Linked DNA regions of Homo sapiens. The protein of the gene in region 1 interacts with the protein of each later gene in a pairwise test. Each region holds a gene or a part of one and is shown on either strand. Other genes may lie near its edges.

Region 1 (3,654 bases):
AGAAGTTTTGTTTTGAGAGATTACATTTTTAAAGAAATTCTTAAGGTTTATATGTTTTAGGTGTTTGAAGTGTGTGCCTATACACTAATCATAATAGGACATTTTTATACTTTTCTGTCAGCATTGATTAGGAATGTAGAATATATCCAAATGGAATAAGTAATGTACATTTTAAAGTGATATGATTCTCACATGTTGAAGTTTGGGTTTTTAGTGATAAGTTTAATGAATTAGACTTTGCTTCAGGACATTTCACTTGTTCATTTCTCACCTTGCTTTATCTTGTCTGAGCAAATTAAGCATTCTGAGATAGTTCTGTAAAATGCAAGTTAAAGTTGAACTAATTTTATCACCAGTATATCTATGAAATAACTTATTTAAAAAAATTTTTTTTTCTGTTTTGCTTATTTTGAGTTTAAGAAAGTAGACTTGGTATTGAAGACCATAGATACATGAATAGAGGGAGTTCTAAGCTATAAAAGGTGTTCCTATTTTGTTGCAGTTTTTTGTGAACACGTATTCTTGAATGAGTTCTAACATGTTCTGTTGCCTTATAGAAAGAATTGACATTGAGAGTCAGCTGTAAGTTCCGCACTGAGAATTCTTTAACCTTAGGGAAATCTTTTAACTAAGGTTTTCTTATTTGTGTACAAATAATACTTGATTTCAGGTATTACTTGTAATTTTTGAGAATTAGTCAGGGGTTGAGAACCTTACATGAAATATCTCCCCTCACATTTATGAGAATTGTAACTGAAAGTAGTAAAAGTTTGAAAGAGTATCTGAGAATTTGCGTCTTCAGCTGTTGAGTTGCTCCAAGCTGTCTTACGTTGAAGGAATTTTTAAAAAATTCCTGTCCTTCTCACACTAGTAGCTTTGTAAGATAACATGAAAATAGATCACTGGAAAAGATGAGGGAAAGACCAACACTCAATTTTTTACTATTTGATTCAATAGACATAAAATTATTTTGTCAAATTGCAATGAAGGTACTTAAATGCTTTGAATTTCCATACTTAACTAATGTTAACCATTAGGAGCAGTTTTGGCATAAGTCCATGGACCACAGTTTGAGAACCTTTGCTCTAAAGCCTAAACCAGTCTCTGTTGGAAAGTGGACGTAAGTAGTAAATAATCGTTTATACAGATATTTTTTCCGAAGGGACACATCTAATTTGCACTGCAAAATTTATCACATAATCAAATGCTTTTCAAGTTAGGATTTTATTAATACTTTTCTTTAAATTAATATATCTTTTATTTCTGTTTTCCTTCTGCCACCCCACAATTACTTATTGAATACTACCAATTATTTGGCATCATGCTAGGTACTACTAAGGATATTAAGATAAATGATACTCAATTCCTTCTCTGCCATTAGTCTCTCATTGTTGTCCAAGATTTCCAGTAGTGATACCATGGAGGACATGGTTCTTAAGGGGTTTCAGAAACCTTTGCCAGGCTAATGAGCCAAGAAGTCACTTTGGCCTACATCCTCTTAATGTATTTTATGTGAAATACATTAGTTGCTTCCTTCCCACAAACAAAAGAAAATGGAGAAATTAGAGAATGCTGATTTATATAGTATTTAAAAGGTACTGTATATCACGTAATTTTACAAATGAAAAACATGTTTTATGCATATGAAGTATAAAGTGAGTCACATAAATTCATGTTATGACAGAACCTTTCAGGAGTACATCACTTTGTAAAATAAGATAAGCCTATATGAAGATTATTGTTGCTTCAAAGAAATTTTTACTTCTTTTTTGTTTTTTTAATAGCTGTCTTGTTAACATCTGTCTTTTAAGCTGAAAAATGTGCAAAGTATTTTTTCCCCTAATGTACACCATGGACTTTTCTGGTTGTAGTTTTGAGATACACGGCATAGGGTGACAGATAGTGATGTGTGTTAATTTTACTCACAAATTTTTAAAAAAATATTTTTCTGTTTTGGAAAGATGAGATCCTTAGAAATAGGGCCATGAATAGTCCATAAGGTCTCTGTACAAATTAGAAAAAGGCACTCCTTCCTTAAAAAGCATTACTACTGTCTGCCAGAAAAAGTATCACAGTAAACATACGAATTTATGGTATTTACAATAAGAATGGCCCTCTAGTATGTTGTGTACTGAACAACCTACCTAACTGTATGTAAATGGTGGCCCTGCTTGGGAGCCATTTCCTTTATCCTTTAATATTCTCTTTGTGTAAAATGGGAATGATAACTAATACATGATAGCAAATAATGTAAAATATCTCTCTATTTAGAAGGTATTATGTCCAGTTATTGATATCTGTTAGCCCAATGTGTTTAAAATTAAAGTCAATGAAATTTTTGAAATTAAATTTATGGCTGCTCCTTTTCAACCATTTTGTTGAGAGTATAGTTTTTACGTATGGCAACTCTTTGAATAATATTAAATATTAACCTTGGACCTACTTGAAAGCAGTGTTCTCAGCCTTAAATGTTTTTAAAGGTAGTTATATATTTAAAAAAAATTCTTAATCCAAGCCCTCCATGGTTAAAAATAGCTTGGATTGGATTTTCTTTCTTTTTTTTTTTTTTTTTTTTTTTGAGACAGAGTCACGCTGTCAGGCTGGAGTGCAGTGGTGTGACCTCGGCTCTCTACAAGCTCTGCCTCCCGGGTTCAAGCAATTCTCATGCCTTAGCCTCCTGAGTAGCTGGGATTACAGGCGTGTGCCACCACGCCTGGCTAATTTTTCTGTTTTTTGTAGAGACAATGTGTTGCCATGTGGGCCAGGCTTGTCTCTAACTCCTGACTTCAAGTAATCCCCGTGCCTTGGCCTCCCAGAGTGCTGGGATTACAGGCATGAGCCACCATGGTCGGCTGGCTTGGATATCCTTAATGTCTAGTATAGTAACTATGGTATTTTGAAGGGTTGTCTCTCCATTGTGTTGATTTGTTAATTTTATAAATTTGATATTTTATAAATATGCTTGTCCAGCTTGTATTTAAATATGATATTGTATAGCTATACATTTATTTAGGTCCTGTACACTTATGAGGGTACTCTTTTAAATTTAAAATAAAAAATACAGATGAGAAATACATAGTCTGAGTTGGTTAAGTGATTCTTAGGTGCTAGACACTGTCAAACGCCTTATATTAATTACCTGTTGATTCCTACAACCCTAAAACTAATAACAATATGATATTTATTGCTTCATTTTTAATTTTTAAGAGGCAGGGTCTTGCTTTCTCACCCAGGTTGGAGTGCAGTGCCACAGTCATAGTTTACTGTGGCCTCAAACTCCTGGGCACAAGCGATCTTCCTGCCTCAGCCTCCCGTGTAGCTGGGACTACAGGCGCCTGCCACCACGCCGGCCAATTTTTTTTGTATTTTTAGTAGAGACAGGGTTTCACCCTGTTAGCCAGGATGGTCTCGATTTCCTGACCTCATGATCTGCCTGCCTTGGTCTCCCAAAGTGCTGGGATTATAGGCGTGAGCCACCGTGCCTGGCCATGTTGGTGAATTTGATATACAGAACTTAGAATAATGCCTTTCTGAAGTTTTTAGGGAGGTCAGGGGAAGTGAGTTAACTTAATAATAGGACAGTACTATGCTTTTTGGCATCAGATTATTTCTAAAGAAGGTTGATGAAAACAGCTTAACATTTGAAATACTTAA
Region 2 (3,654 bases), on another chromosome or scaffold:
CGATGGCACGATCTTGGCTCACCGCAACCTCTACCTCCCAGGTTCAACCGATTCTGCTGCCTCAGCCTCCTAGTAGCTGGGATTACAGGCATCTGCCACCATGCCCGGCTAATTTTGTATTTTTAGTAGAGGCAGGGTTTCTCCATGTTGGTCAGGCTGGTCTCGAACTCCTGACCTCAGATGATCCGCCCGCCTCGGCTTCCCAAAGTGCTGGGATTACAGGTATGAGCCACCACGCCTGGCCATGAACATAATTTCTTTACATTCATTTTAGCACTGAAGTGCCAGGTAACACCCACCCCCGCTGCCCTTCAGTGAAACAGGTGTTTTAGTCCTGTACCTTCGTAGCTGCTGTCAGTACTTCTTGCTAAGGAATTGCCTAGGGTTGTGAAACTGCCCTTAAGAGAATGGTTTTCAGCCTTGGCTGCATGTTGGACTCACCAGGCAAGTCTTTAAAAATACTGATTCCTGGGGTCCCAGGCCCAGAGGTTCTGATTTCACTGGTCTGTGGTGCAGCCTGGGCACCAGAATTTTTTTGAAAACTCCCTGGGTAATTCTGATATACAGGCCAGGTTAAAAGCTTAAGACCTGCTCAGTCAAAGGGAAGATGTCTTCTTCCTGCCTACACTGTTTCAGCTGGGACATCACCCTCCACAAATTCCTGAGTGGAAAGGGCTGTGGTTACTTTGGAAGCCTGTGGCCCTAGAGTTCTGGAACTAATGCCTCGGCAACATACTCCCCAAGACCTGTCTACATGTTTTTCTGTTGTGGGATATGTAGTATTTTGCATCCCACTTTGGTTTTACCCAATCCTTTAAGAAAGGGTCAGCTAAGTTTTGGCCAAGTGTTGTGGTCCATGCCTATAATCCCAGCAGTTTGGGAGGCCGAGGCCAGCAGGTCACCTGAGGACAGGAGTTTGAGACCAGCCTGGCCAACATGGTAAAACCCCGTCTCTACTAAAAATACAAAAATTAGCCGGGCATGGTGGTGCACGCCTGTGGTCCAAGCTACTCGAGAGGCTGAGGCAGGAGAATCGTTTGAACCTGGGAGGTGGAGGTTGCAGTGAGCAGATATCACGCCACTGTACCACTGCACTCCAGCCTGGGTGACCGAGCAAGACTCCATCTCAAAAAAAAAAAGAAAGGGTCACCTGAGTTTTTAACAATCTGATTCTTCAATGAATCCCTTTCCTTTTTACCACAGATTGGCCTGTAACTTTTGCTGGACTTTGGTGCTCTCCTTGATTTTATTTGCTCTTTGCCTTTGGGCCCCAACTTTTATTTCCCACCTTAACTCCTCTGCACGTTTTCTTGTGTGAAATCTCCCAATATGAGGAGAAAGTCAGTGATTTCTGGGTCTATCAAAAGCAGCCATTGTTCAAAGTGTTTTTGTCCTTCTTCACCTCCAGGATGAAGAATCCATCCAGAAGATAAATCCTTCCAAGCCTGGACTCCATCTACCTGGCTCTCCTTTAGTATGTTTCATCTTCCTGTACTTTCTCATAAATTTCAGAAATTTATTCTGCATGCCTCCTCAGGGCAAAGGCATCTCTACCTACAACTGTCACCTTGACACTCACCTAACAGTGCTTGAAGTGTCCTATACTGATCTTTCCCCTCTTAAATCTGTACACATTTTCTAGTTTTTATTTATTTTTATTTTTATTTTTATTTTTTAGACAGAGTTTCACTCTTGTTACCCAGGCTGGAGTGCGGTGGTATGATCTTGGCTCACTGCAACCTCTGCCTCTTGAGTTCAAGTGATTCTTGTGCCTCAGCCTCCCAAGTAGCTGGGATTACAAGTGCCTGCCATCACACCCTGGTAATTTTTTGTATTTTTAGTAGAGACGGGGTTTCACCATGTTGGCCAGGCTGGTCTCGAACTCCTGACCTCAGGTGATCTGCCTGCCTCAGCCTCCCAAAGTGTTGGGATTACAGGCGTGAGCCACCACACCTGGCCATTTATTTTTATTTTTTTAGAGACGGGGTCTTGATATGCTGCCCAGGCTGATCTCAAACTCCAGGGCTCAAGGGATCCTTCTGCTTCAGCCTCCCAAATCACTGGGATTACAGGCATGAGCTACCACGCTTGGCCCACATTTTCTGTTATGACTTGACAGAACCTATAAAAGCAATTGGAGAACTATTTAAAAGACAATTTCCCCAAGGGTTTATTGAATCTGAGCTCTTACAGTGGAGAGGGGGACAAGGGATGGGGGGAACATATGCCAATCTATTTTCTGAGCTCTTCACACTCTGCCTCTGTTATATTTCCTTGGAACCCAGTTACCATATCCGGTAGGGTCATAACCAACAAGGATCCCTCTTCTGCACCCTCCTTTTAAAAGCTTTAGAGACCTAAGTTCATGTTCTTTCCTGTTCCATTTCTGTCTTCCCTATACTTTAAGATCTTCCTCCAGTTAAATTAGCCTGTATTCCTTTATTTTTCTTTTATTCATTCATTGCTTCCATACTGATAGTAAGATTGAAGCATCTTCTACAAACCACTCCATTTCCTCCTAGATTTTGAGAAAACTCAATTCCTGGAAAGACAGCATACTAGGCGTAGCCCTTGGGCTTCCGAATTTGCAGTCAGTTCACTGAGTTGTTGTATACTAGGCATATGCCTTTGGCTTCTGCATTTGCAGTCAATTCACTGAGTTGTTGTATACTAGGCATACCCCCACCTCTGGCTTCTGACAGTATACTAGGCATACCCTTTTGGCTTCTGAATTTGCAGTCAATTCACTGGCCTCAATTCCAAAGTGGTGCCTTCTTTATGGAAGGGTCACCATCCATTATTTGTTCATTGGGGGAAAAAAACCCTACAGTTACTCCTCCGTGAATAAAGCCCAAAGCCAGATCTCTGAAAAGTCTGGAACTTTCAAAATGCAAGCCATGATCTGGGCTTTCATGACCTACTTGGGGACCTTAGTTGGCAGCAAAACTCCATGGGTTATACCACATGCATCCAAGTGGTATGTAAGAAGTATAACCCTTTTTCTAACAGTTTAGAAAGAACAATAATCTGGGGGGAGGGGGAAGGAGGGAGGAAAGGAACAAGGGGTGAAAAACTAACTGTTGGGTACTGTGTTCACTACCTGCTGGCGGGACCAACTGTACCCCAAACTTTAGCGTCACTCAATATACCCATGTAACAAGTCTGTACGTGTACCCCCAAATCTAAAAGTTGAAATTATATTTTTAAAAAAGAACGATAATCGTGAAGATAGCTAAATTTCCTCTCTTGACCATGAATGTAGTTTAAAACAACATAGAGAATAAGAGAATGAGGCAACTGTCTGCCTATGCCTAGCACAAAACTCCAAGCTCAGAGAATTCACCTGTGTTTGGAGTTTATTTTCTAGTCATCAGTGATTACTAAAAATAAATGACTTGTTCTTGATAGTCTAATCCCTTTCCTACCCACTCTCTTAAGCCAAAGCTGCTCTCAGTAGAGCCACCATAGGACCATGGTCTGCCTGGCTTATATCAGTTAAAAACCAGGTATCGTATTTAAAAACTTAACACCAGCCCGGCGCGGTGGCTCACGCCTGTAATCCTAGCACTTTGGGAGGCTGAAGTGGGCGGATTGCTTGAGCTCAGGAGTTCGAGACCAGCGTGGGCAACGTGGTGAAACGCCATCTCTACTGAA
Region 3 (3,654 bases), about 53 Mb from region 1:
TTCATTTGTTCAATAAATACTTAAATTATAAGCATAGCCATTGTACTAAATAAGCTCTGGGGATTCTAAACAAGACACAGTTCCTGTCCTTAAAGAGATTAAAGTCTACTGTAACAAACAGGAAAGTTAAAATAGGCAATCATGATGCTGTACATTAAGAGTTACAACACATGCAAATGCAAAATGCTATGGGAGGACATAAGCATAGCACCTAACCCAGGGCTTACGTAAGTTTTAGGCTGGTCAGAGAAAGCTTCTTAGGAGAATTAAAATCCTAAGAATAAAAACCAAGATAGACAAAGTGAACTGCATGTGCAAAGGCCTGAAGCTGACAGAAAGTATTACATTCCTGTTTGGTATAGCAGCAGCCCAGAAGCAAGAAGCTAGAAGTAGAGTTAGAAAGGTAGGCCGGGCGCAGTGGCTCATGCCTTTAATCCCAGCACTTTGGGAGGCCAACTGAAGTCAGGAGTTTGAGACCAGCCTGGCCAACGTGGTGAAACCCCATCTCTACTAAAATACAAAAATTAGCCAGGCATGGTGGCAGGCACCTGTAATCCCAGCTACTCAGGAGGCTGAGGCAGGAGAATCCCTTGGAGGCAGGAGAATCCCTTGTACCCAGGAGGCAGAGGTTGCAGTGAGCCAAGATTGCACCAATGCACTCCAGCCTGGGTGACAGGGCGAGACTCTCTCTCAAAAAAAAGAAAGGTATACAGGGTTGGACAAAGCTAATATACTAAAACTTTATTCTAAGGACAATGATAAGGAACTAATGCGTCTTAAACATTGGACTGGCACAATCAGTCCCACGTTTAAAGTGTAATTCTGATTTTCCCAGCCCCATGTTTAAGACTGTTTAGTTCCTTACCATTGGGTACAGTGTGGAGAATAAGCTGGAGAAGGGGACACAGTGGGAGGATGGCAGCACTCTAGACCACTAACGTGGAAAACAGGATGCTAAAGTTATCTGGTGACTGGATGCAGTAGTGAAGACACTGAGTTCAAGACCAGCCTGGACAACAAAGCAAATAATTCAGAATTTGTCATCTCCTTAACGTCCATTTATTAGTTTATTAAAAATTAAAAAATAAAACAAATTTTTTTGAATTCAAGACCAGCCTTGAACCTCATAGAGTGAGACTCCATCTCAAAAAATAAAAAATAAGCCAGGTACGGTAGCTTACACCTGTAATCCCAACACTCTGGGAGGCCAAGGTGGGAGGATCACTTGAACTGAAGAATTTGGGACTAGCCTGGACAACATAGCAAGACCTCCTCACTACTAACAATAAAAAAATTAGCTGGGCAGGCATGGTACTACATCCCTGTAGTCCCAGCTACTCAGGAAGCTGAGGCAAGAGGATGACTTGAACCCAGAAGTTTGAGGTTGCATTGAGCTATGATCACACCACCTCACTCCAGCGTGGGCAAGAAAGTGAGACCCCATCTCAAAAAAATTAATTAAAGTAAAATAAAAAATAAAGAAGATTCAAAAATCACTAAGACCCAGTGGTTAATAAGGCATGTAGAATAACAACACTGTGCTTGATAAAAAGCATGTACTCAAAAAATGGTACCTGCTACTATTATTATTGTTATTGGGCATTGGATTAGATGACCTTTGAAATCACATTCATCCTTAAGAGTCTACGTTACCTTGAAGATGTATCTTGTTCTCAGAAAAGTCCTTTCCCACGATTACCAAGCTATCTTATACAAAATGATTCATTTTTTTATTCATAGACTACACCAGAACTGCTCAACTGGGCTCCACTACACACCAGTCATAGCATGAAACGTTTATTAGGTGTTCTCACAAACAGCGGTCCATGACCAAGTAAGTCTGAGTAACACCGCGTAATGTATCTTCCCTCTTGAAGGGTCATAGGCAAATAAGCACCAAGGCTCTGAATAATAATTCTGCAGTAAAGAAAGGCATTTCACTTTGGCCATTTTTTGTCAAGGATCCTCTTTTTATCCCCAAAGGACACTGATTAGCACTACACAGAACTAATGTTCAGTGGAAGAGCTTGGGAAATGCTACTCTAAACCAACTTACAAATTTTAGTGGAGTGAAAAGACTATAGGCAACTGTATTCTGATAACCTTCCAAAATGGTTAGAGTTTTACACACATTATGGCGTTTTCCTTTCTAACTTAGTACTACTGAAAATGACATTAAATACCACCATAAATAGCAATCCTTTGCCTCCTAAGTGATTGCCAACCAAGCATTCTTGGCTTCTTAAAAGGCCCCAACTTCGTCATTTCATAATGAGCAAATTCTATGCTACTTACTTTCAGGGTACAGTAATAATTTTTAAAACAGTTTAAAATGACAAGGATGTCAACTGTGCAGATAATGTGTACTTTATTAGCCCCTTCTCTCTTCTCTTTTAAAAGGAACAGATCATGCCAGTGTCAAAGGGATATATCTTCTTAACACTGGGCAAAGAATCTCAACTTCATAGAGATTACTGGACAGTTTACAGCTCTGGAGGCCAAGGGCAACAGTAATTTGGGATTGTGAAAACCTTCAGTACTTCAGATTTAAGCCAATGACATGATACAAAATATTCTATACTCTAACATCATTTCCTATGAGTCATCTCATTCCTTTTTTGGTTTTGTTTTGTTTTTTTTTGGAGACAGTCTCACCCTGTCGTCAAGGCTGGAGTGCAATAGAGGCGCGATCTCGGCTCACTGCAACCTCTGCCTCCCGGATTCAAGCGATTCTCCTGCCTCAGCCTCCCGAGTAGCTGGGGTTACAGAGGCCCACCACCACGCCCAGCTAATTTTTTGTATCTTTAGTAGAGATGGGATTTCACCATGTTGGCCAGGCTGGTCTTAAACTCCTGACCTCATGATCTGCCCGCCTCAGCCTCCCAAAGTGCTGGGATTACAGGTGTGAGCCACGGCGCCCGGCCCATCTCATTCCTCTTATTAAAACACTTTGAAACACTGCTCAAGATCACTATTTATGGTTCATACTCATGAATGTATTTAAGAATAGGACAATTATTGAATCTTATTAAGAATATACAATTGACTTTAACACTTGAACCCGGGAGGCAAAGGATATACTATTGGCTTTAAATGAAGGGTATTCAGGCTGGGCGCAGTGGAGGCTGAGGCAGGCAGATCACCTGAGGTCAGCAGTTCGTGACCAGCCTGGCCAACAAGATGAGACCCTGTCTCTACAAAATATACAAAAATTAGCCAGGTGTGGTGGCACGCACCTGTAGTCCCAAGCTACTCAGGAGGCTGAGGCAGGAGAATCGTCTGAACCCAAAAGGCAGAGGTTGCAGTGAGCCGAGGTCATGTCACTGCACTCCAGCCTGGGCGACAGAGCAAGACTCCAGCAAATAAATAAATGAATGAATGGCATTCATTTAAATAGGACACCTTATATATAGTACCTTGAACGTGAATTTTTTTTTTTTTTTCAAAGAGGGAATCCCGTTCTGTCACCCAGGCTGGAGTGCAGGGGCATGATCTCAGCTCACTGCAGCCTCCGCCTCTGGGTTCGAGCGATTCTCCTGCCTCAGCCTCCTGAGTAGCTGGGACTACAGGTGCCTGCCACCATGCCTGGCTAATTTTTGTATTTTTAGTAGAAACGGAGTTTCACCATATTGGCCAGGCTGGTCACAAACTCTT

The links.
Region 2: the proteins of DR1 (region 1) and RNF34 interact in binary tests that used the Homo sapiens proteins (3 or more experiments, as listed by UniProt).
Region 3: the proteins of DR1 (region 1) and NFYC interact in binary tests that used the Homo sapiens proteins (3 or more experiments, as listed by UniProt).

What each region holds. Positions count from the first base shown.
Region 1 is NC_000001.11:93,348,882-93,352,535, forward strand, and holds part of DR1 (protein Dr1), read left to right. Parts: intron 1-3,654. UniProt on the Homo sapiens protein: The association of the DR1/DRAP1 heterodimer with TBP results in a functional repression of both activated and basal transcription of class II genes.
Region 2 is NC_000012.12:121,406,464-121,410,117, reverse strand, and holds part of RNF34 (E3 ubiquitin-protein ligase RNF34), read right to left. Parts: intron 1,658-3,654; exon of another isoform or gene 1,643-1,657; coding exon of another isoform or gene 1,409-1,642; intron 1-1,408. Other genes in the region: KDM2B (lysine-specific demethylase 2B), read left to right, coding at 1,409-1,642. UniProt on the Homo sapiens protein: E3 ubiquitin-protein ligase that regulates several biological processes through the ubiquitin-mediated proteasomal degradation of various target proteins.
Region 3 is NC_000001.11:40,698,153-40,701,806, reverse strand, and holds part of NFYC (nuclear transcription factor Y subunit gamma), read right to left. Parts: intron 1-3,654. UniProt on the Homo sapiens protein: Component of the sequence-specific heterotrimeric transcription factor (NF-Y) which specifically recognizes a 5'-CCAAT-3' box motif found in the promoters of its target genes.